3 linked regions of the Homo sapiens genome follow. The protein of the gene in region 1 interacts with the protein of each later gene in a biochemical or structural test. Each region holds a gene or a part of one and is shown on either strand. Other genes may lie near its edges.

Region 1 (4,555 bases):
GCTAGCACACATGCACACACCACCTGCCAACACACATGCCCTGCCCTGGCTGCCAGTTTGCTCCCACAGGAGCTCCAGGAAAAGCCCAGGGAGTAACCAGTTCACAGGCAGGACAGCGGAGGCTGGAGATGCCACGCTGGGCGTGGAGGAGCTGGCCCCATCTCAGGGGATTCTGCTCCCAGGTGCCTCCTCTTTCCCAGAGCCCTGGCTGTGCCCCGCCCTGCGAGGCGGCCGCTGACCAAAGCCCTGCCCAGGACAGTCCTGCGTGGGCTCCGAGCCTGGACTGGGCCATTGCTGCTGCCCAAGGCCATGGAGGTGACCGGGAGAGGAGCTGGCCCTCCTCGCACTGCACGGCCCTCCAGACCTCGCCTCCTCCCCTAAGCCCTGGTCCAGCAGGCGGGGGCTGGGAGCAGCGTGTTCTTTCAGCCCACCCCACCTCTCATGCACCAGGTCCTGCAGCTGCCCCAAGCCTGGGAGGGGTGGAGGGCAGTCTCCTATCACCATTTCTGGTTGGCATATGGGGTAGATGCACCCCTGACTTTCCTGCAGAAGCCAGGGCCCCAGACCCAGGAGGATCAGGGCAGATTCTCAGGTGTATGCTGGGTGCTCCCTCCCTGAGGACAGCATTACCCAAGCCCACAAAGGCAACGGGCATTGGCGTCGGACACAGGAGGGCTGGTGGGGGCTTCCTGGGACAGAGAGGACCAGTCCTCCTCTTGCTGTGCCACCCCAGGTCAGCCGACTGGCTCAGGGACTGCCTCTTCTGCCTGCAGCTCCCAGGACGAGATGGCTGGGAGGAAAAACTGGGAGGGAGGTGGGGCCTGTCTCCAACCCTGGGGACACTGCAGAGGGATCCCCAAAAGCTCTACTGAATCCCGGAGTCCTCTAAACCACTGGCCAGCCTGGGCCCTGCAAGGCGCAGCTGTGCCGCCCCTGGCTTCTCAGTACACGATCAGGGGCCGCTGGCCCTGCTCCAGTGCTCCAGCCGGTGGGCAGACTGGCCACACCAGGGGCGAGCTTGGGGCGACCACACATGACACGGCACCCAACACAAGGGGGCCATGCACAGGGGGCCTGGTGCCGGCCCGCGGCATCCTGAGTATGTCCCTGGAAAATGTGTGGCCACGGTCTTTGCCTGGGCTCAGAGTCACTGTGAAAATCCAGGTTCTTAAGAAATAACTTTAATGTATTTAGAAACCTCAAAACCGAAATCTCCCTGCCGGGTCCCCTCCCTCCGGCCGGCCCCTTCTCAGAACGTGGGGCACTCCTGGGCACTCAGGGCCCTTCTTGTCCCACTCAGGGGTAGGAAGGGCATAGGAGGAGACCTCGCATTGCCCCCAATAATCGCTATTGGTGCCTCCTGTGCCCATCAGTCCAGGTGGAGTTGCCCCCTGGGTGCAGTGGGGAGGTGGGGCCCAGCAGCTGAGGGGCCCAGCCAGCCAACGGGAATAGGCTGGGCTCCCTGGGACACGGTGTGGCCCCCTCGAGCTTGCCTGGGGGTGCCTCTCTGGGGACATGTGATCTTCCTTCCGTGAAGTGTCTGGAGCCCGGCACCACAGCCACAGGCTCTTGGGAAGCCCCAGGGAACCATGCTGGGTCCTTGAGACCAGCTCCCCACGCTCTCTAGAGCCAGGCACGACCACTTGCTGATTGGAGACAGGCTGTGCTGCCGCCGGCTGGCCTCGCCAGGGCTACACGTCCGTCTCCACCCGCAGACGCTCCATCCTGCGGACATTGCCCTCCACGGCCACACGGCTGGTGATGAAGCGGGCAAAGTCCTCGGGGAACCATCCCGTCTCTCCGTCCCGGAGCCTCTCGCCATAGAGCCACCCTGAACCCGGATAGGGGTGGGAGGGAGGTGAGGGGAAGGCCGTGGGTCCCCCGGCCCCTCTGAGCTGCTATGCCTGAGCACACCAGGGCCAGGCTTCTCCTAGAACTGACCACCTGCTCCTGCTCAGAGCAGACAGCTGCTGAGGCCTTGCTCATGGTCACCGGGCACCCAGCCCCTGCTCAGGTGCTCGCCACTGAGAAGGGTGCTGGGCTGAGCACACCCCACACAGCGCTGCCCGGCATGAGGAGGAGCCCTGCCTGCCCTCTGCAGGCTCGTGCTGGGCCTGGCTGAGCGGGGATCCCCTGGGAGGGCAGAGACACCTCCTCCTCCCCACGTGGGACACAGTGACCATGAACCTGCTTTTGATTCTGAGGTTTGGGGATGTGGGAGTGCTCCCTTTGAGGAAGCCCTCGAGAGAGGGTGAGCACATGGTCAGCCTGCAGCCCGGCATGCTCTGGACCTGGCCAGGCTGGACGCTGACTCACGCCCGCCTGTCCGTTCCCACCCATCTGTGCCCAACGCCCCTGCACTCACCATCCTCCTGCTGCAGAACCAGGACCACGTCCGCCTGCTGCAGTGTGACCTCGTCTGCTTGCTTCGCGAAGAAGGCCTTGGTGATCTCCACCTGGGGCAGGTCTGCATAGGGCAGTGGCCATCACAGGGCTGTCGGGAGGCATGGGCCAGGCTCCACTCCCCAACGGCCTCCAGCAGACACATCCCCCGGGGCCGGGGCACCCCATCCCCCGACTGCCAGGCCCCAGCACAAGGCCAGGTGCCAGGCTCACTTGGGCTACAGTGGGGGCCAAAGTGCCAGCCACGGCAGAGGGCCAGCCCTGCAGGCCCCAGCCCGCACTCACCTCCTTTGCTGGAGAGGCCCTGCCACTGTCTCTCACTGTGTGTGAGCGCCACGATCCACCGTGCCCGGTCACTCCTGGGGACCAGAGACAGCATGAGCCAGGCCTGGAGACCGATCCTGCCCGTCTGATGTTCCTTGACTTCTGACAGCCACCCATGGGGGCCGTGGCAAGGAGATGGGGGTGGTGGGGGTGGGCAGGAGTGGCTGGGCAGACTGTGCCAGGCAGGCTAACCCCCAAGTCACCCCAGCCCCAGGTCACAGAGTTGGGTAGTGGCCACACACCCAGACCCCAGCCTGCTGGACCTGAGGCCACCCCGTTTCCTGGCACTGGGCCCCAGCTCCCTGCCCCCTCCGTTTGCTGTGACAGACTCAGCCTCAGCATCCTCATCTGGAAACGGCCCAGAGCTGTCCTCAGTCAAGACGAGCTGAGAGGGAATATGGAGACTGGCGCACCTGTGTGCCTGGCTTCCACGGGGGGCCCGCAGAGACTCCATCAGTGCCCCCTCCCATTCTGAGTGCCAGGACCACCCTGCTGTCTGAACTGGCCCCTACCGGCCAGGGTCGCTGCACCCCAGCATCACTGCTGTCCACCTGCAGCTGTGCCCTCGGGGCCTCAGGGCTCTCCTGCCTCGGGGCCTCTGCTGAGCAACCCCACACTCCGGCCCCACCTCCCTCTGCTCACATGGGCTAAGCTTTCCTCACGGCACCCCCCGCACCCCACCCCCCACCTCGTTTCCTCCCTTGTTCCCACTCCTGGTGGCCCAACTGTTGGTGCGTCCCCTCCCGGGAACATAAACTCCATGAGGACAAGGCCATTTCTGTTGTTTCTGGCTCTACCTCAGCACCTACAGCAGGGCCAGGTGCACGGTGGGCGTTCAGAGCCAGCCATGCAACAGCGAGCAAGGCAGGGGGACAACCCGGTCCCCATGGAGCTAATGTGCCTGTGGCCTGGGAACAGCCCTCCCGGGAGCCCACTTACGCGGAGTCCGAGGAGAGCAGGAGCTGCTCCTGGCGGCCCTCGCTGTTGCGAAGCAGGGTCACCTGGAAGGGGTGGGGCACGGAGGAGCTACGGTTGCCGCCCCCGGGCAGAGGGAGCTCAGACGGCTCTATCTTCTCCACCTGGATGTGGTTCATCTGGGCGTAGTCCTGGACCATGTAGCTCTCCTCGCTGTGGAGACACGGGCAGTCGGTGGGACGGTCCCACCCAGCTCCTACCCAGTGCTGCTGGGCTCCCGTCCAGGTCCCACCCGGCTCCCCTGCAGTGGTGGGGAGGCAGCCACGGACGGGCTCCAAGAGTTCCCGCGTCCCACAGAACAGAGGCCATGGCTTTCGAGTCCTCCTCGTGGCTATCACCGGCAGACCCAGGTCTGCAGAGGAGGTCAGAGGCTGCACAGCGAGCGCCACCTGCCCCCGAGTGTCACGTAGAGCATGTGCCGAGTGGAAGCCGCGCCTCGGCTCTGAGGTCAGAGGGGCTCAGGGCCAACTCCCTGTACCCTCCTGCCCCAGGGCCAGCGGTCCAGTGTCCATGGAGTGGGGCTCCCCACACCCTCCTGCCCTAAGGCCACCTCTTCTTCTTGGTCACAACCAGGACATCGTTGAACAGGAAAAGGTAGCACGTTGGCCGGCTGGCAATTTTTCGAAAAAGTCCGGTTTCTTCCACTAAGAACAGCTCTCCGCGCTTCAGCAGCCACCGGGAGGCAGAGATCAGTGGGAGGGACTGGGGGGACAGAGCCGGGAGGCGGAGATCAGTGCGAGGGACTGGGGGGGACAGAGCCGGGGTGAGCAGGTCCCCAGGGGGTCAAGGACGCATAGCACCAGGTGGGACTGACTCCTGCCTCTGGACTGGGTGACCAGCTGGCTGCCCTCAG
Region 2 (8,726 bases), on another chromosome or scaffold:
CTTCCATGCAGGCCCAGGAAGCAGAGACCCACCATCTCAGGCCCCTGTGCCCCATGGAGCGGTCCCAGGACCCCAGACCCCCTCACCTTGTCCGTCTTGTCTTCAGAGAAGGGATTCTGGGAAGGATCCTGGTCGATTCCACCTCCAATGCTGAAACCCAGGATTAAGTTCTCACCTTGACGCAGCTTGTGAATTTCAACTCTTTGCTGGCAAAGAAAAAAGCCAGTTGAGAGAAGTGGGTGGTTGGAGAATTAGGCTGGTGGGTGTTCCCAGCAGCAGCCTCAGAGCCATGACAAGGGGCTGGGTCCCAGGCCCCTGCAGGAATCCAGCTGCTCACCAGCCTGGGAGGCTGAGGAGCTGGCACTCAGAACTTGGCCACATTGATCCACCCACACAGCCCTGTGTCCTCAACCTGTCCCCACTTCCCCTGTTAGTCTTAGGCACTAGTCTTGGTCAACATGTGGTGGAAGCCCCTGCTGGCCCAAGAGTCCAGGTGCTGTGGCTTCTGTAGGTGGGAAGCCCGTCTCACAGGAGGTGCTCTGGAAAAGCAGAGATCAAACTTGCATAGAAAGGAGAGGAAGGGGTTTCCTTTCGGCCGGAACCGCCATCTTCCAGTAATTCGCCAAAATGACGAACACAAAGGGAAAGAGGAGAGGCACCGGATATATGTTCTCTAGGCCTTTTAGAAAACATGGAGATGTTCCTTTGGCCACATATATGCGAATCTATAAGAAAGGTGATACTGTAGACATCAAGGGAATGGGTACTGTTCAAAAAGGAATGCCCCACAAGGGTTACCATGGCAAAACTGGAAGAGTCTACAATGTTCCCCAGCATGCTGTTGGCATTGTTGTAAACAAACAAGTTAAGGGCAAGATTCTTGCCAAGAGAATTAATGTGCGTATTGAGCACATAAAGCACTCTAAGAGCCGAGATAGCTTCCTGGAACGCGTGAAGGAAAATGATCAGAAAAAGAAAGAAGCCAAAGAGAAAGGTACCTGGGTTCAACTAAAGCACCAGCCTGCTCCACCCAGGGAAGCACACTTTGTGAGAACCAACGGGAAGGCGCCTGAGCTGCTGGAACCTATTCCCTATGAATTCATGGCATAATAGGTGTTAAACAAAAAAAAATAAAGGATCTCTGGGCTCCAAAAAAAAAAAAAAAAAAAAAAAGAAAGGAGAGGAAGGGCTTGCCGGCCACGGGGACCAGCGCACAGGGTGCCGTGGATACGTGTTCGTGAGACTGGAGTGTCCAGTGCAGGACACAGAACTGGGAGGCGAGATGAGGCTGAAAGTGTAAGGCTGGGGCCAGATCCCGTCCTGGAAGGGGAGCAGGGGTGTCTCCCTAAGCCCCAGACCCTGCTCTTGTGCAGAAACGAGTGTTCTGGGGCATTCCCACCATGCTCTGGGGTGTTCCCACCATGCTCTGGGGCTATGGTCCCCAACTGTGCCAGGTTCTTTTCAAAGCCCTTGGCAAGCGCCGTCCAGTCAGCAGATGCTGGGAGCCAGACCAGATCACTCCCAAAGTCAAGTTTTAACAGGAAGGAGAAAAGAAAAAAGCAGAAGACCACAATCTAGACTAGACCTAAAGAAGTTTCCCAAAGGGAGGATTATTTGCACCAGGCTTTGAGGGGGTGATGGGTAGCCTGACCTTGATCCTGAACCCACTGGAGTTCTCAGGAACGGAGTAGGGTAGGGCATGGTCAGGTTTGCTGCTAGAATGACCACTCAGGTAATCAGTAGAGGAACGGACATCTCACAAAAGCAAGGTGCAGAGGCCGGGGGACATGGAGCTACCTGAAAATGGAGATCTACAGACTTAGGGACCACTCATGGAGGAGAGGAGTCAAGAGGAGCACCCAGCCACCGTGCCTGGCTGAACACACATTATTCAGATGGGGACCCAGGAGGAGGAGGAGCAGGTTAGGTTGGAGTGCCAGGAGCTGCGGGGCAGGTGTCCAGAAGGCAGATGGATCTATGGAGCCAGGGTTCAGAAGAATGGCCTAAATGTCTTTAATATTCTCAGGATTCTACATGGGAGAGGGTGGGGACTGGGGAGTGAGCCTGCCCAAACCCATCCCCAATCCAAGACTCGAGGGAGAGGCCAGACCATACACACCATGTCCAGGCACGTTCCTGGTGTTACCAGAATTAGGGGGCATGGGCCTGCAGTTTTGGGGAAGGCCCTGGGACCAGTTATGGCGTGAGGGAGGGGGGCAGGAAGCATGAGGCCTACTGTGCCTGGGTCCTCATGCCCCAAACTGAGCTCCTCCAGGCCTGCTCTGCCGGCACGGTCAGAAGATTACAGGCCCTTGGGTTGGGAGACAGGGCTGTCACTGATTTGCTGGGTGAGGTCACGCAGAAGGTGGCTTGCTGTAGCTCCTCACCTGTCCCTGCCCCCCTTCTACCTAAAGAGCAAACCTGGTGCCTTCTCTCTGGGGCAGGTAGGGATCTAAAAAAGCCAGGCTGGGCCGGGTGTGGTGCCTCACGCCTGTAATCCCAGCACTTTGGGAGGCTGAGGCAGGTGGATCACCAGAGGTCAGGAGTTCAAGACAAGCCTGGCCAACATGGTGAAACCCCGTTCTACTAAAAATACAAAAATTAGCTGGGCATGCTGGTGCATGCCTGTAATCCCAGCTACTCGGGAGGCTGAGGCAGGAGAATCGCTTGAACCCAGGAGGCGGAGGTTGCAATGAACCGAGATCGCGCCACTGTACTCCAGCCTGGGCGACAGAGCAAGACTGTCTCAAAAAAAAAAAAAAAAAAAAAGTCAAGCTGGTGCAGGGAGGGTGAAGCTTAGGACAGCTGTCAGCTGGTCCAGCAATGTTTCCTCCTGGCCCAGGCCTGAGCCAGTGCTCTAAGCTCAGCCTCACTTGTCGCCTTTATCAGTGGCTTCTCTGCCTCCACCCACCTGATTGCTGGAGCTTCTCCAGCACACCCAACTGAGATAACACACCCAGTCCCTATGGCTCCAGGGCGGGGACTTTCGCTTGACCTACTGCCCACCGGGCAGGCATTTCTTCTCATTCTCTGAACGCTGTCGGGAGGTAGGCAGGAGACCTGAGTCTTTCCTGAGGTGGTCTTTTCTGGCTGAGCACTTCTCTCTGGGACTCCCCACCTCTGTCATAGGGTTGTGTCCCTCTGTGACACCGGCGTCTGAGTCTAACGTCCCAGCCTTCCTTCCTCCCTCTGCCTAGTCTAATAGCACCCAGCACCTAAAACAAGCCAGAGGGCGGCCAGGGGCCTAGGCTAGCCCCCGGAGGGTCTACTCAGGACTCAAGTGCCAGGAGGGAGGCCTGGACTTTTTTGCCTTAAGGGCTGGAGACCCAGGAAAAGTTCGAAGAGGAAACGCTCATCGCAGCTATACGAGCGTCCACCCTGGACCAGGCGGCGAGTGGGTTGGAGGAGCAAGGCTGGACAGGAAGGGGGCAGGGGCTGCCACGGCAGGCTCGGGAGAGCCCCACCCCCAGATCTCCCTCCGGGCGGCGGCGCAGGCTGCAGCGGAGGAAGCATTTCCTCATTCCAGAGGCTGCGACTCATGGACGTCGGGATCGGCGCCCGCCCCCAGCAGCTCCCCGTCTGGGGACACGGAGGCCCGGGAAGGGGGCGCTTTTCCAGGCTCCTGCAGCCAGGCCTTTCCCCGTGGCCCTCCCCGCCCTGCGCACGCAGTCTGGGCTCTGTCCAGGGTCTCGGGAGGCTCTCGGGTCCCGGCCATCCCTGTTTCGTGGCTGGGGGAACTGCGGCCCGCTCCGGCAAAGCGGGGACCCGAGCCCTTGCCGCCGGTTCGCAGGAGCCCCGGGTTCGATGCTCTGTCAACCTGCTTGGGGTGTCCGTTTCCCGCTCTGCGAGGTGGGGTCAGGCCAAGACGAGGAGGAGCCCGCGCAAGCGCACTCACCACCACGGCGGTGACCGGCTGGCCCGGGATGTAGGACATCTCGACCCTGCTCTGGTCGCCCAGCGCCGCTCCGAGAAGCCGGCAGCAGAGTACCCGCGGTCGCGCCCTCGCTGCTTAACAAAGGCCGCCCCGCTCGGCCCGCCCCCTCATGAATAGTTAACAAACCTCCAGCCAATCACTGGCCGGAGCGCCACTCCGCTTTCGGAAGTCCCTGCGCGTGCGCAGAAAAGCGGGCAGAGGGCGGAGCGTGTCCGGGGCGCCCACGGCGCAGGCGCGGAGGGCGGGGCGGGATCTGGGCGCGTGCGCAGCCCGAGACCTCCCGGCAGTCTTCCGAGCAAGATGGCGCCGCGGGCATTTCTTCCACTGCCCGTCTGAGGGAACGCTAAGTAGTGTGTCCGGCGCCGTGTTCCAGGTAACTGGGCCACCGTGGCCGGGGAACGCAGACGCGCCACCACCTCCCGGCCGGCCCGGACCCTCAATCTCCTCGGCGTCTTTGGAAGATCCGAGGCCCAGGACTGGTGCCAGGTCTCGGAAGCTCCAGGGGGAGGGGGCGGCGTGAACCCAACTCACCGAGCTCCGGGCGCCACTTGTAACTTGGTTTTCTCCGCAGCTCCGCGTTGTTCCGCGAGAAAGCGAGAGGCCGAGCCCGGGCTGGTGCGATGGCCGCGGTGGTGGCCAAGCGGGAAGGGCCGCCGTTCATCAGCGAGGCGGCCGTGCGGGGCAACGCCGCCGTCCTGGATTATTGCCGGACCTCGGTGTCAGCGCTGTCGGGGGCCACGGCCGGCATCCTCGGCCTCACCGGCCTCTACGGCTTCATCTTCTACCTGCTCGCCTCCGTCCTGCTCTCCCTGCTCCTCATTCTCAAGGCGGGAAGGAGGTGGAACAAATATTTCAAATCACGGAGACCTCTCTTTACAGGAGGCCTCATCGGGGGCCTCTTCACCTACGTCCTGTTCTGGACGTTCCTCTACGGCATGGTGCACGTCTACTGAAATGGGGGCCCGGGGGACTTTTTTAAAAAACCAGATCGGGAGGACTGTGGCCAGCAATTAACACCATGTAGACTTCCTTAGTTCTTAAGTGGTTGAATTCGCTGCTTGTTCTGTAACGTTATAAATAATTTATATCTGAAGACGGAGAGCCTGTAATATTCTTCAGATTAAATGAAGCGTGAGACACTTTGTGGAGTTCTTTCCTGCTGTAACGCTTAGGCTGCCACTGATGCAAAATCGCCGAGATTTGACTCCTGGAGAGCAAGGAATGGGCCATAGCCTTGTGTTAAGTCCTTGTATTTACACATAGGCCATTCAGAAACGGGCCCTAAGGGCCTACATAAGGAAAGAACTTATTAACATCCTAAGAAGCAGTAACAGTTAATATGTATTAAGAGCTCCCTGGGCCGGGCACGGTGGCTCATGTCTGTAATCCCAGCACTTTGGGAGGCCGAGGTGGGCGGATCACCTGAGGTCAGGAGTTCAAGACCAACCTGGCCAACATGGCAAAACTCCGTCTCTACTAAAAATATAAATATTAGCCGGGTGTGGTGGCGCGCGCCTGCAATGCCAGGTACTCGGGAGGCTGAGGAAAGAGAATCGCTTGAACCCTGGAGGCAGAGGTTGCAGCGAGCCGAGATCGTGCCACTGCATTCCAGCCTGGGTGATGGAGCAAGACTCCGTCTGTCTCTCAGGGAAAAAAAAAAAAAAAAGAGTTCCCTATATGCTGGCATTGTGACTTCTACTCTACACCGATCCTCTCATTTAATTTTAGCAATAACCTTACAGGGTAGATGTTATTGTTAGCTCCCTCGTAAGGAACCTGAGGCTCAGAGAGGTTAAATACTTCTCCCAGAGGAGATACAGCTAGGAAGAGACAGAGCCAGGATTCAAATGCAGGTCTCTTAATTTGCTCTTGATATGTTTGCTGGGTGTACCTTTCACAGGCCAGCGTTCCCTCCCACTAACCACTACTTTCAGGTATATATGGTGTCATTTTAGTTCCATTTCATTTAGTGACAGTCCTTTCCATAAGAAAAAATAAAGTCAAGCTGTATTTTTTAGAATATGTCTAGGGAAGATTAAACATTGTTTGGACATTTAGGCTGGGCACAGTGGCTCACGCCTGTAATCCTAGCACTTTGGGAGTCCGACGGCAGGCAGATCACCTGAGGTCAGGAGTTTGAGACAAGCCTGGCCAACATGGCGAAACCCCATCTCTACTAAAAATAAGATGCAAAAATTAGCCAGGCGTGGTGGTGGGCACCTGTAATCCCAGCTACTTGGGTGGCTGAGGTAGGAGAATCGCTTGAACCCTGGAGGTGGAGGTTGCAGTGAGCCAAGATCATACCACTGCACTCCAGCCTGGGTGACAGCAAGATTCCATCTCAAAAAAAACACAAAAATTGTTTGGACATTGAAGTTGAACTTTGGGCAGGTTTAGGGTGTAAACACCTCCATGTGTTAATCCATGATCCTTTCTTGTCAGGAGGGTTATTTTAGAATAAAACGCATTTGTGGCCGAGCACGGTGGCTCATGCCTGTAATCCCAGCACTTTGGGAGGCCGAGGTGGGCAGATCACCTGAGGTCAGGAGTTCGAGACCAGCCTGACCAACATGGAGAAACCCCATCTCTACTAAAAATACAAAATTAGCCGGGTGTGGTGGCACAGGCCTGTAATCCCAGCTACTAGGAAGGCTGAGGCAGGAGAATCTCTTGAACCTGGGAGGCAGAGGTTGCGGTGAGCCGAGATCATGCCATTGCACTCCGGCCTGGGCAACAAGAGCGAAACTCCCTCTCAAAAAAAAAAGAATAAAATGCATTTGTTTAATTGAGGAATAAATATTGCATTAGAATGACGGTAATTGCCTGAGTGTAGTGGCTCCTGCTGTGATCTCAGCACTTTGGGAGGCCAAGGCTTGAGCCCAGGAGATCAAGACCAGCCTGGGCAACATAGTGAGATGCCCATCTCTACAAAAAAACATTTAATTAGCCAGATGTGGTGGCATGTGCCTGTAGTCCCAGCTACTCAGGAGGCTGAGGTGGGAGGATCAGGATCACCTGGGCCCGGGAGGTTGAGGCCACAGTAAGCCACGATTTTGCCACTACACTCCAACCTAGGCAACAGCGAGACCCTGTCTAAAAAAAAAAGAAATTACAGTAATGAAAATGATGGTGCTCATTGGATTTATGGTTAACTGGGGAAACCAGCATCACCTAACTTCAGAAATACTTAAATCATGGTGAGTACTATGAAGAGGACATAGCAGACCTAGCCCAAGTTGGGGTATATGGAGGTCAAGGAAGTCTTCTCTGAGGAAATAACATTACATCTGAAACCCAAAAGTTGAATAACATAGGCAAGTGTGGGGAAGGAGTTACCTTCAGGAAAGCGCATGTTTCCAGGCCATTGGGCAGGAAGGAATGTGACTGTATTTAGAGAGTGAGAGAAGAGGCCACAGGGTAGACCCAGACCAGATCATGGAGGGCAGTAATGGGTGTGGGGACATGCGCCTGTAGTCCAGCTACTCAGGAGGCTGGAATGGGAAGATCAAGATCACTTGAGCCCAGGAGGTTGAGGCTGCAGTGAGCTCCCATTTGCCCTGGCCTTGATCCTCAGAGCAAATGGGGGAAGCCTTTGGAAGTTTTTAGTCTGAAGTGACGTAATCACATTTGGATTTTTTTTAAAAAAAGAATCTGTTTTAGATTGGAAGGGGATCTGAGAGCTTGAATCCAAGTCCCCTTTTGACAGATCATAGATAGCCCATGGCCAGTCATGGAAATGGATCTGGGACCCAGACCTGTTAAATTCCGTTTCGGCTTCAGGAACACATGCACACGACGCCAAGGAGAAGCTGAGGCCATAGCGTTGCCCCCCATCTCAGTGAGCCCTTTCTCTGCCCCCACTGAAGATCCTCAGTGGTTTGCCCACCTCAGTCCTCTCAGAACCTCCTCTGAGTGGGAAGGAAAGGTTCATTCCTGGTGTAAGGGAGAAGCAGAGGGAGTCCTCAGCCTGGTGGGAGAGGAGAAAAAAGGAAGAGGGATAAGCGAGCTGATGTACTTAACCATTTCCCTATTGTTGGGCAGTAAGTTTGAAATGTTCACTACTATAAAAAATACTGCAATGAATGTCTGCGTTTATATTGTTTTGAGAAAATTAATAAGTTCCTACAGCAGAGGATAAAAATTTGGTTCCAAGTTACTTCCAGAGTTGTGTTAGATTACACTACTTGAATGAAAAGTACCAGTTTTATCAGTTCCTTCCTAGTCTATAATTTTAATAGTTGCTCATTTAAAGCATTTCCATAATTTGAATTTCTTTGCAAGATGAGGAATATATTGCTTACTAATTGTTTCTTGTGTCTGCCTCTTTTGATCTTGCCTTCTTACATTTTCCTTTAAAATACGGGTAAAAATGGGCCAGGTGCGGTGGCTGTTGCCTGTAATCCCAGTACTTTGGGAGGCTGAGGTGGGCGGATCACAAGGTCAGGAGTTCAAGACCAGCCTGACCAACATGGTGAAACCCCGTCTCTACTAAAAATACAAAAAAAATTAGCCGTGCATGGTGGTGCACGCCTGTAATCCCCGCTACTCAGGAGGCTGAGGCAGAAGAATCACTTGAGCCTGGGAGGCAGAAGCTGCAATGAGCCGAGGTCGTGCCACTGCACTCCAGCCTGGGCTACAGAGCGAGACTCCATCTCAAAAAAAAAGATGGGTAAACATGAAGAGAAAAAAATCAGGACACGTTTGAAATTGACACCATTTATTGTTTTATGACCAAATAAGAGTGTCAGAGAATACATATCTTGGGCAGGTCCCAGAAAGCGTCTGCCATCTC
Region 3 (9,574 bases), on another chromosome or scaffold:
GATTCAACCCGGAAGGTGGAAATTTTTAAATGGTTATTAAGAAGTAAGGTAGGCCGGGCGCGGTGGCTCACGCCTGTAATCCCAGCACTTTGGGAGGCCGAGGCGGGCGGATCACGAGGTCAGGAGATCGAGACCATCCTGGCTAACAAGGTGAAACCCCATCTCTACTGAAAATACAGAAAATTAGCCGGGCTTGGTAGCGGGCGCCTGTAGTCCCAGCTACTTGGGAGGCTGAGGCAGGAGAATGGCGTGAACCTGGGAGGCGGAGCTTGCAGTGAGCCGAGATCGCGCCACCGCACTCCAGCCTGGGTGACAGAGCAAGACTCCGTCTCAAAAAAAAAAAAAAAAAAAAAAAAAGAAGTAAGGTAGCAGGGTGTGGTGGCTCATGCCTATAATCCCAGCACTTTGGGAGGCCAAGACAGGATGATCACTTGAGCCCAGGAGTTCAAGACTAGCCTGGGAGCCAAAGGGAGACCCTGCTGGTCTCCCACCATTAAGGGGTTCCAAACAAGTTTGCTATATTTACCCCAGTTTGGAGAAATTGTAAGTCAGGAGGCAGATTACAATGAGAAATCTGATCTGAAATTGTGGAAACAATAGGTAGATGAGTCAAGATAAAGACTGGCAAATGGGCAAGGGTCTCTTGGCTCAACCACCTGCTGGGGACCCCAAGCCTTCTGTATATAAGTAGGTAAAATGGTCAGGGAGTGGCAAAAAGAAATTCCTGGGACTCCTTCATATGGAAGCCCCAGGTACAGTAGTACCAAGAGCCATTGGTGAAGCCCCGAACAGGGCTACAGTTAGATTAAGAGAAGGCCAGGCGTAGTGGTTCACGCCTGTAATCCCAGCATTTTGGGAGGCCGAGACAAAAGGATCCCTTGAGCCCAGGAGTTCGAGACCAGCCTGGGCAACAAGGCAAAACCCCATCGCTACAAAAACTAAAAAAATTTGCCAGGCATGGTGATGCACGTCTGTAGTCCCAGCTACCGGAAGGCTGAGATGGGAGGATCACCTGAGCCCTGGAGGTGGAGGCTGCAGTGACCCATAATAGCAGCACTGCACTCCAGCCAGGGCGAAAGAGTGAGATCTGATTGAAAAAAAAAAAAAAAAAAAATTGAGAGAACACAAAGATGTAAGTGTTGACAGAACTATGAAAGTTGGAAGCTGTGTCTCCTATATGTAAATGTGTTTTATTAGGAATGGATATTATGTCTGGCTGGGGAACACTTCCCCTACCTAGTATTGCAAAAACAAAACCTGTTGATAAAGTCCTAATAGAAGCTACAGTTAGAAAAGTGAGGGTTAGCCAGGTGTGGTGGCTCACACCTGTAATCCCAACACTTTGGGAAGCTGAGGCGGGTGGATCATTTGAGGTCAGGAGTTCGAGACCAGCCTGGCCAACATAGTGAAACCCTGTCTCTACTAAAAATACAAAAAATTAGCTGGGCATTGTGGTGCACACAAGAAGTCCCAGCTACTTGGGAGGCTGAGGTGGCAGAATCGCTTGAACCCAGGAGGCAGAGGTTGCAGTCAGCTGAGATCGCACCACTGCACTCTAGCCTGGGCGAAAGAGCAAGACTCTGTCTTAAAAAAAAAAAAAAAGGAAAAGAAAGTGAGTGTTGATGGAATTAAGATAAAAGTTTACAGGAGAGTTGGTATATTCAAACACACTTCATATGAGAGCATAAGAGCTCCACACCCTTCTCCCATACCTACAAGCCCTACGCCTCTCTTCATCTGTATGCTTTGTAGCATCCTTTACAATAAACCGTGAAGGTAAAAAACAAACAAACAAACAAACAAAAAACACCAAAAAAACAGGTGCTGCTAAAACTGAACTGTCAGTAGTAGAAGACTGCGATGGAATTACCACACCCACTGTTCATAATTCAAACATAATTCAAAACTGATCAAGACTTTAAAGTAATGGAGAATAAAGTAAAAGGCATGTTAATTGTTACGGAATACCTTTGCTTGCCATTGCCTCAGTGAACAGCCTTTTAAAAAATTTTTTTTCTTTTTTTTGAGACAGAGGGTCGCTCTGTCACCCAGGCTAGAGTGCAATGGCGGGATCTTGGCTCACTGCAACCTCTGTCTCCCGGGTTCAAATGATTCTCTTGCCTCGGCCTCCCGAGTAGCTAGGATTACAGGCGCCCGCCATCACGCCCAGCCATTTTTTGTATTTTTAGTAGAGAGAGAGAGAGAGAGACGGGGTTTCACCATGTTGGCCCGACTGGTCTCAAACTCCTGACCTCGTGATCCGCCCGCCTCGGCCTCCCAAAGTGTTGGGATTACAGGCGTCAGCCACCGCGCCCAGCCTAAAATCTTATTTAAAAATTTTTTTACATGAGTTTACCAACTAGATTTAACTTATGGTTGCAAAATAAATTGATTTCACCTTTATCTATATCATTAAATTTGGTAAAAGCATTACAGTTTGTCCAGTCACTTCAGAGAAGTCAAAGTCTTCTACAATTTCTTAAAGTTTCAAAAGATTCTTAGCTTAATTTATTGGCTCTTTAGGTCAAAAGAAGGACTTTTCAGGGTGATGAAAATGGAGGAAGGAGGAGCTCACCTTTCTAAAAATGAGTTTTCAATTACTATAATTATGCATAAGACAGGCAGCATTTCTGGGCCAAGATTTGATGCCTTGGTCCCATGAGAATTAAATTAGAGCCACGCATAAATTTGGGGCAAGTTCTGCAAAAACCACTTCAACCTCTATTGATGCTGAATAAAAAACTCATTGTTAAGATTCATCAACACGAATATATTTTCTAACACACACTAGCCACTCTGGCAACAACCCTTTCATCATTTTCTATCCAAGAAACACAACGGAATGCATTTCAATCCTGCTCAACAATTACCACGATTACAAGTAGAGGGGAGAGCTCAAAAGTAAGAATCTAGTTCACCGAGCCCGACCTTAAAGTAGCAAGGCCCAACCCACACTGCTGGCTATTGTATTGGTTCCCCAACACCTCCAGGGCTGGAAGGACACCAGAACGCTCCCGACACGTTGAGAGAGAGAAAGCCAGTCGTTAAGGGCGGGGTGGTGGATGATCGGAATCGTTCACATCGCAGCAAGCCAGCAGGGACACAGGTGTGCGGCCAGGCCCCGGTGCCGCTGTCCTTGCTCCAGGGCGACAAGGCCCTTCGCAACCACCACAGCCCTCGTAGGCGCTTACTTATTCATTCACTTGACAATTACGCGAGAGGCACTCTAGCAGGGCCGGCTCTCGGGGCCCCCGCCCTAGTCTTGGTAAATCGCTGCCGCCAGGCGCGGCCCTGCACCGCCCGCGCCCCGCGGACGCTGCCACCCGCGCCACGCTGCGGCGCGCTCTGGCCACCTGGAGCCCAACCCCGGCCTCCGCCGCACACGAGCGCCCACGCCCCCGGCCCTGCCCGCCGCAGGTCCCCCGGCCTCCGGCTCGCTTCGCCGCCTCAGACCTGCCGGGTTCGTGGGGCAAGTGGGGCGCGCGTCTGGAGACCTCCAGCCGCCCAGGATTCAGGGGCTCCTCTGCGCGCGCGATGCCTGCACTCGAGGGCCTCGCGGGTGGGGCAGGCCCACCGACCACTCACCTCAGCTGGGTCAGAACCAAGCGGCCTGCTCTAAGCCGTTTGAAACCGCTTGGGCCGCCGCACACCCCGCAGTGTCCTCGTTCTTTATTGGTCCTCGACGGACCGCCCATCGGACTTTTATTGGTCCATTTGAAAGGCCTGTGGGCACGCGCCGCCCGCAGCCTTAAAGGGGCCGCGCGCAGCCGTGTTTCCCTCTGGACCAGACGCCGCCTGCACGGGTGGGGACGCTGGTCGCTGCCGGGGGCAAGTCTGCCGACTCCAGAAAGAAAGGCGAAAGAATGTGTGTAGACCCGGGCATCCTTGGTCGTCAGCATGTTTGCTTTATTTAATTACAGATGTTCAGGCTGCTGTCAACACCCGACAATTTTTTTTGGTCATTTCATTCCCTAGAGATTGTGAAGCTAAGTGCTGTGAGGGAAACCAGAGGCAGCTGAGATGTCGTGGAAGTAACAGCGAATGAAGCCAGGATGCTGGATTCTGACCTTGGAACTGTTCTGAGTAAATCACTTTTCTCAGTAAATCTTCTGGAGTTGTTTCCTTATCTGTAAAATGGGATAACGATGTTTCCCTTACAATTTAATGGAGGAGTTAATATAACTAATAGAATGTCTGAGAAAAGCCTTTGTGAACTGTAACGCATCCTGCAAATGCTTAATATTCCCTTATAAAAACGAGAGGCTTGGTTAACATGATCTCCAGAATTTTAGCTTAGCTCTACATTCAGTGTTTCTGTGAATGAGTTCAGGTCCTTACTTCCAAGGAATTTGTAATCTACAGTGGTTGGAGGAATATAACATACAGACTAGTCACTAAAATTCAAAGCAGTGTAATAACTGTATAAATGAAAAGCTATAAATGCTTAGAGACAGGAGAAATTTGATGGGGGAGGATCTGTGAGGAAGATGAATTTTTAACCTAGGATTTAAAGAATGTGTAGATTCCCAACAGGCTAAAAGATGGAGAGAGGATGGATAAAAGTAAATGAAACAATTACATGTTTTTTCATTGTCAAGTTGGCAGAGATGAAAAAGTTCAACAGCCTTTGGTTGGTCAAGATTTGGAAAAACAGGCTGGGTGCAATGGCTTATGCCTGTAATCCTAGCGCTTTGGGAGGCCGAGGCAGGAGGATTGCTTGAGGCCAGGAGTTCAAGACCAACCTGGGTCTTGCTATCAAGACCCCATCTCTGTTTTTAAAAATATAAAGAGATTTGGAAAAATGGACACTCAAAGTCAATATTGGTAAGAGTATAATTGGTACAAACCTTTAGGAGGACAATTTGACAGTTACTAAAATGTACATAATCTAGTTCTGGCCCAGTAATCCACTATGAGGAATTTATCGTACAGATCTGTGCAAGTATGCAAAGAAAAATGTACAAGGATGTTTACTGCAATACTGCTTTTTTTTTTTTTTTTTTTGAGACAGTCTCGCTCTGTCGCCCAGGCTGGAGTGCAGTGGCGCAATCTCAGCTCACTGCAACCTCCGCCTCCCGTGTTCAAGCGATTCTCCTGCCTCAGCCTCCTGAGTAGCTGGGACTACAGGCACGTGCCATCACACCTGGCTAATTTTTTGTAGTTTTAGTAGAGACGGAGTTGCACTGTGTTAGCCAGGCTGGTCTTGATCTGCTGACCTCGTGATCCTCCCGCCTGGGCCTCCCAAAGTGCTGGGATTACAGGCGTGAGCCACTGCACCCGGCTTTTTTTTTTTTTTTTTCTGACAGAGTCTCTCTCATGTCACCCGGGCTGTAGTGCAATGGCGTGATCTTGGCTCACTGCAACCTCCATCTCCCGGGTTCAAGCAATTCTCCTGCCTCAGGCTCCCAAGTAGCTGGGATTACAGGCACCTGCCACCACGCCCGGCTAATTATTTTTTATTGTATTTTTAACAGAGATGGGGTTTCACCATGTTGGTCAAGCTGGTTTCAAACTCCTGACTTCAGGTCATCCACCTGCCTCAGCCTCCCAAAGTGCCGAGATTACAGGCGTGAGCCACTGTGCCCGGCCCTTTTTTTTTTTTCTTTTTTTTTCTTTTGAGATGAAGTCTCGCTCTCTCGCCCAGGCTGGAGTGCGATGGCACCATCTCAGCTCACTGCAACCTCCACCTCCCAGGATCAAGCGATTCTCCTATCTCAGCCTCCCAAGTGGCTGGGATTACAGGCATGTGCCACCAAGCCCAGCTAATTTTTTGTATTTTTGGTAGAGACGGGGTTTCACCTGTTGGCCAGGCTGGTCTTGAACTCCTGACCTCAAGTGATCCACCCGCCTCGGCCTCCCAAACTGTTGGGATTATAGCTGTGAGCCACTGTGCCCAGCCAGCACTGCTTAAGATAAAAATAAAATAAAATAAAAAAATAAATCTGGAGGCCAGGCATGGTGGCTCATGCCTGTAATCCCAGTGCTTTGGGAGGCTGAGGTGGAGGATTGCTGGAGTGTGGGAGGTCAAGGCTGCAGTGAGCTATGATCACGCCACTGTACTCCAGCCTGCGTGACAGAGTGAGACGCTGTCTCTAAAAAAAATAAAAAATCTGGAAATTACATGTTCATCAACAGGGAACCTTTTACATAAATTATGACATATCCATTCAATAGAACACTATGAAACTGTTAAAAAGAATGCGGTTAATCTATGTGCTGGAACAGAAACATGCACAAATTTTATTAATTGAAAAAAAGGCAAGTTGCAGAACTTGTGGAATGATTTTATTATATATGGTTATAAACGTATGTGTGTTTGAGGGCATGCCTGAAAATGGTTAGAACATTCCTGGAATTATAAGAAACTTAATAGGAGTGGGACTTGGGAGGGAAATGAATTTTTACTGTTAACGTGGTGTGTTTCTTTTTTCTTTCATAGAAGGAGCAGAGAGTAGTGGGGAAAGTGTGAGTCAGGGCGCAGAAACAGCAAAGTGCATCGTATGTATGGGACTGAACATGTGGGGTTGATTTTAGGACTGAAATTTTGTTGGGAAGTAGTGGAACACAAGATTGACACAGAAGGTTAAGAACAATTCTTTTTCTTTTTTTTTTGAGACGGAGTCTCACCTGTCGCCCAGGCTGGAGTGCAGTGGCGTGATCTCAGCTCACTGCCACCTCCACCTCCTGGGTTCAAGCAATTCTCCTGCCTCAGCCTCCCAAGTAGTTGGGACTACAGGCACAAGCCGCCATACCTGGCTGATTTTTTTGTATTTTAGCAGAGATGGGGTTTCACCTTGTTGCCCAGGCTGGTCGCAAACTCCTGAGCTCAGGCCATCCGCCCGCCTCAGCCTCCCAAAATGCTGGGATTACACATGTGAGCCACTGTGCCCGGCCAGGAATGATTCCTAAAGGATCTTGAATCCCAGGGTATGGAATTGGTACTTTATTAAGTAGATAATGGGGGGGCTATTAAAGGTACCTGAGCAAGAGGGTGGCAAAATCAGAGTTGTACTTTAGGAAAATTAATTAGCTTGATTGTCTAAAATGGTTTAGAGTTGGGAACCCAGCTAGGAGTATGATATGAGGTGTTAGCAGTGGAGAGGATGAGAGCAGATTCAAGAAAGAATGAAAGATTTGGCAACTGACTAGATTAGGTGCAAAGGCAAGGGTGGGTCCCATTTAGGGAGGTGAGTCAAAGAGAATTCCAGGATTTGATTGCCCAATGGAAGTAGGAAGTCAGGAGAAGCCAGTCTCAAGGGGAAGGTGAGGCATTTAAATTGCAACCTGTTCACTTTTAGGTACCAATAAGGCATTCTAATGGAATCATCTGAGTAGGCCTAGAAAATACACGATGGAAGCTGGAAGAATAGATGCAGAATCAATGATATAGATTTGGGAATCACATTGATAGAGTGAATGAGACTGCAGATTGGGGGATTGGAGAGAGTGAAAGGATGGCCAATGAAGACAGATCCACATGTAGGAGAAGAAGAAAGGAATGAAAGCAATATGGTCATGGTAACCTTGGATAAATTGGTGAGGATATACAGAAATAGTTTTCTTCAGTCATTGGTCATTGGCATATTTACTTTATTTAAATATTACCAGAAATAAACTGAAGATTACATTTAAGGAGAGGGTGTGATGGTAATCAGGAATTGGCTTAACAAAGGATGTTTGTGCAGTCCGGGTCCTGGAGAGTTTTAGAACAAGATGACAAAATCCCTTTTTGTCTTGGATGACTTAGGTGCAGCCCTACTTTAAGGTGAGTATTAGATGTCTGATGCTACTCATTTATTCATTCAACAAATATTTATCAGCACCTATTATGTGGAGGGACTCTTCTAGGCACTGCAATGATCAGTAGATAAAATAGACTCCCCAAAATTTCCTCCCTTTGTGGTGCTCACACTATAGTGAGGAAACGTAGACAATCAACACATAAATAAATTATATAGTATGTTATTAGACAATATGTCCAGTGGGAAAAGAAAAAGAATAAAACTAGGTAAAGGGATAGGGAAGTGGGGTTGGAAAGACCGTAATTTTATTTTATTTTTCAACTTCTATTTTAGAATCGAGGATACATGTGCAGATTTGTGATAAAGGTATATTGTGTGATGCTGAGGTTTGGGGTATGATTGAACCTAGGTAGTGAGCATAGTACCTAACAGTAAGTAGTTTATCAGTCCCTGCTTGCCGGGGTCTGTCCCACAGACCTTGACCCAACAACGGTTGAATAACGTACACTAACACAGATATTCTGCCTGTCACTCCAGCTAAGGGTCTGGGCCCCTCACAGACACCAAGGAAGGTGCTGTAAAGAGTAGCAGCCGGCCCCATCAGCCAGCGAAGCTTGCATTTATTCAGTATAGATTAAATGACAAAGGTTTTGAGTAAACACTGCTAGAGGGTAATTGACCTGGTTGCCAACAACCCCGCCCCCACCCCCTGCGGTTGTGCACCCGGTTGATCAAAGATTGGTCTTAAGACCACATGAGTAAACAAGCTATTCAGATAAACTACTCTACATTCCTTTGTATCTACTTTAAGCTATTTACTCAAAGTAAGGATTAGGCGGCTTTCAGCCATAACCCTATCCTGAGACTTTTGCAAAACCTTCCGGCCTTCCAAGAAGATTTGTGTCTATATTTTATAACTTCATCTTAAAATTTTCCCACCAGCCTGACTGAACTCCCACACTTGCTCATCTCCCACTCTCCCATCTCTAGTAGTCCCAAGTGTCTATCGTTCCCTTCTTTATGTCCTTGTGTACCCAATGTTTAGCCCCTGTTTCTAAGTGAGAACGTGCAACCTTTGGTTATCTGTTTCAGCATTAGTTTGTTTCGGATAATGGCCTCCAGCTGCATCCAGGCTGCTGCTAAGGACATTATTTCATTCTTTTTTTATGGCTGCATAGTTTTACATGATATATGTACCACATTTCTTTAATCCACCATTGATGGGCACAAGGGTTGATTCCATGTTTTTGCTATTGTGAATAGTGCTGCAATGAATATATGGGTACATGTGTCCTTTTGGTAGAATGATTTTTTATCCTTTGAGTATATACCCAGTAATAGGATTACTGGGTCGAATGGTAGTTCAACTTTTAGTTCTTTGAAAAATCTCCAAACTGCTTTCCACAGTGGCTGAATTAATTTACATTCCCACCACAGTGTACAAGTGTCCCCTTTCCTCTGCAGCCTTGCTAGCATCTATTAAATTTTTACCTTTTAACAAAAGCCACTCTGACTCGTATAAGGTGGTATCTCATGGTTTTGATTTGCATTTCTCTGATGATTAGTGATGATGAGCATTTCTTCATATGTTTATTGGTCACTTGTATCTCTTTTGAAAGTGTTTGTTCATGTCCTTTGCCCACTATTTATTTATTTATTTATTTATTTAGAGACAGAGTCTTACTCTGTTGCCCAGGCCGGAGTACAATGGCACAATCTCAGCTCACTGCAACCTGTGCCTCCCAGGTTCTCCTGCCTCAGCCTCCTGAGTAGTTGGGATTACAGACACCCACCACCATGCTTGGCTAATTTTTGTATTTTTAGTCGAGATG

The links.
Region 2: the proteins of ARHGEF16 (region 1) and TAX1BP3 form a complex in vitro, tested with the Homo sapiens proteins (2 studies listed by BioGRID and IntAct, with this or other methods).
Region 3: the proteins of ARHGEF16 (region 1) and CKAP5 form a complex in vitro, tested with the Homo sapiens proteins (one study listed by BioGRID).

What each region holds. Positions count from the first base shown.
Region 1 is NC_000001.11:3,477,724-3,482,278, reverse strand, and holds the end of ARHGEF16 (rho guanine nucleotide exchange factor 16), read right to left. Parts: intron 4,405-4,555; coding exon 4,253-4,404; intron 3,856-4,252; coding exon 3,667-3,855; intron 2,763-3,666; coding exon 2,689-2,762; intron 2,468-2,688; coding exon 2,366-2,467; intron 1,832-2,365; coding exon 1,692-1,831; 3' UTR 1,166-1,691; downstream 1-1,165. UniProt on the Homo sapiens protein: Guanyl-nucleotide exchange factor of the RHOG GTPase stimulating the exchange of RHOG-associated GDP for GTP. May play a role in chemotactic cell migration by mediating the activation of RAC1 by EPHA2.
Region 2 is NC_000017.11:3,664,593-3,673,318, forward strand, and holds the start of TAX1BP3 (tax1-binding protein 3), read right to left. Parts: upstream 3,987-8,726; 5' UTR 3,935-3,986; coding exon 3,896-3,934; intron 207-3,895; coding exon 87-206; intron 1-86. Other genes in the region: EMC6 (ER membrane protein complex subunit 6), read left to right, coding at 4,555-4,887. UniProt on the Homo sapiens protein: May regulate a number of protein-protein interactions by competing for PDZ domain binding sites. Binds CTNNB1 and may thereby act as an inhibitor of the Wnt signaling pathway. Competes with LIN7A for KCNJ4 binding, and thereby promotes KCNJ4 internalization.
Region 3 is NC_000011.10:46,842,635-46,852,208, forward strand, and holds the start of CKAP5 (cytoskeleton-associated protein 5), read right to left. Parts: upstream 3,647-9,574; 5' UTR 3,586-3,646; intron 1-3,585. UniProt on the Homo sapiens protein: Binds to the plus end of microtubules and regulates microtubule dynamics and microtubule organization. Acts as a processive microtubule polymerase. Promotes cytoplasmic microtubule nucleation and elongation. Plays a major role in organizing spindle poles.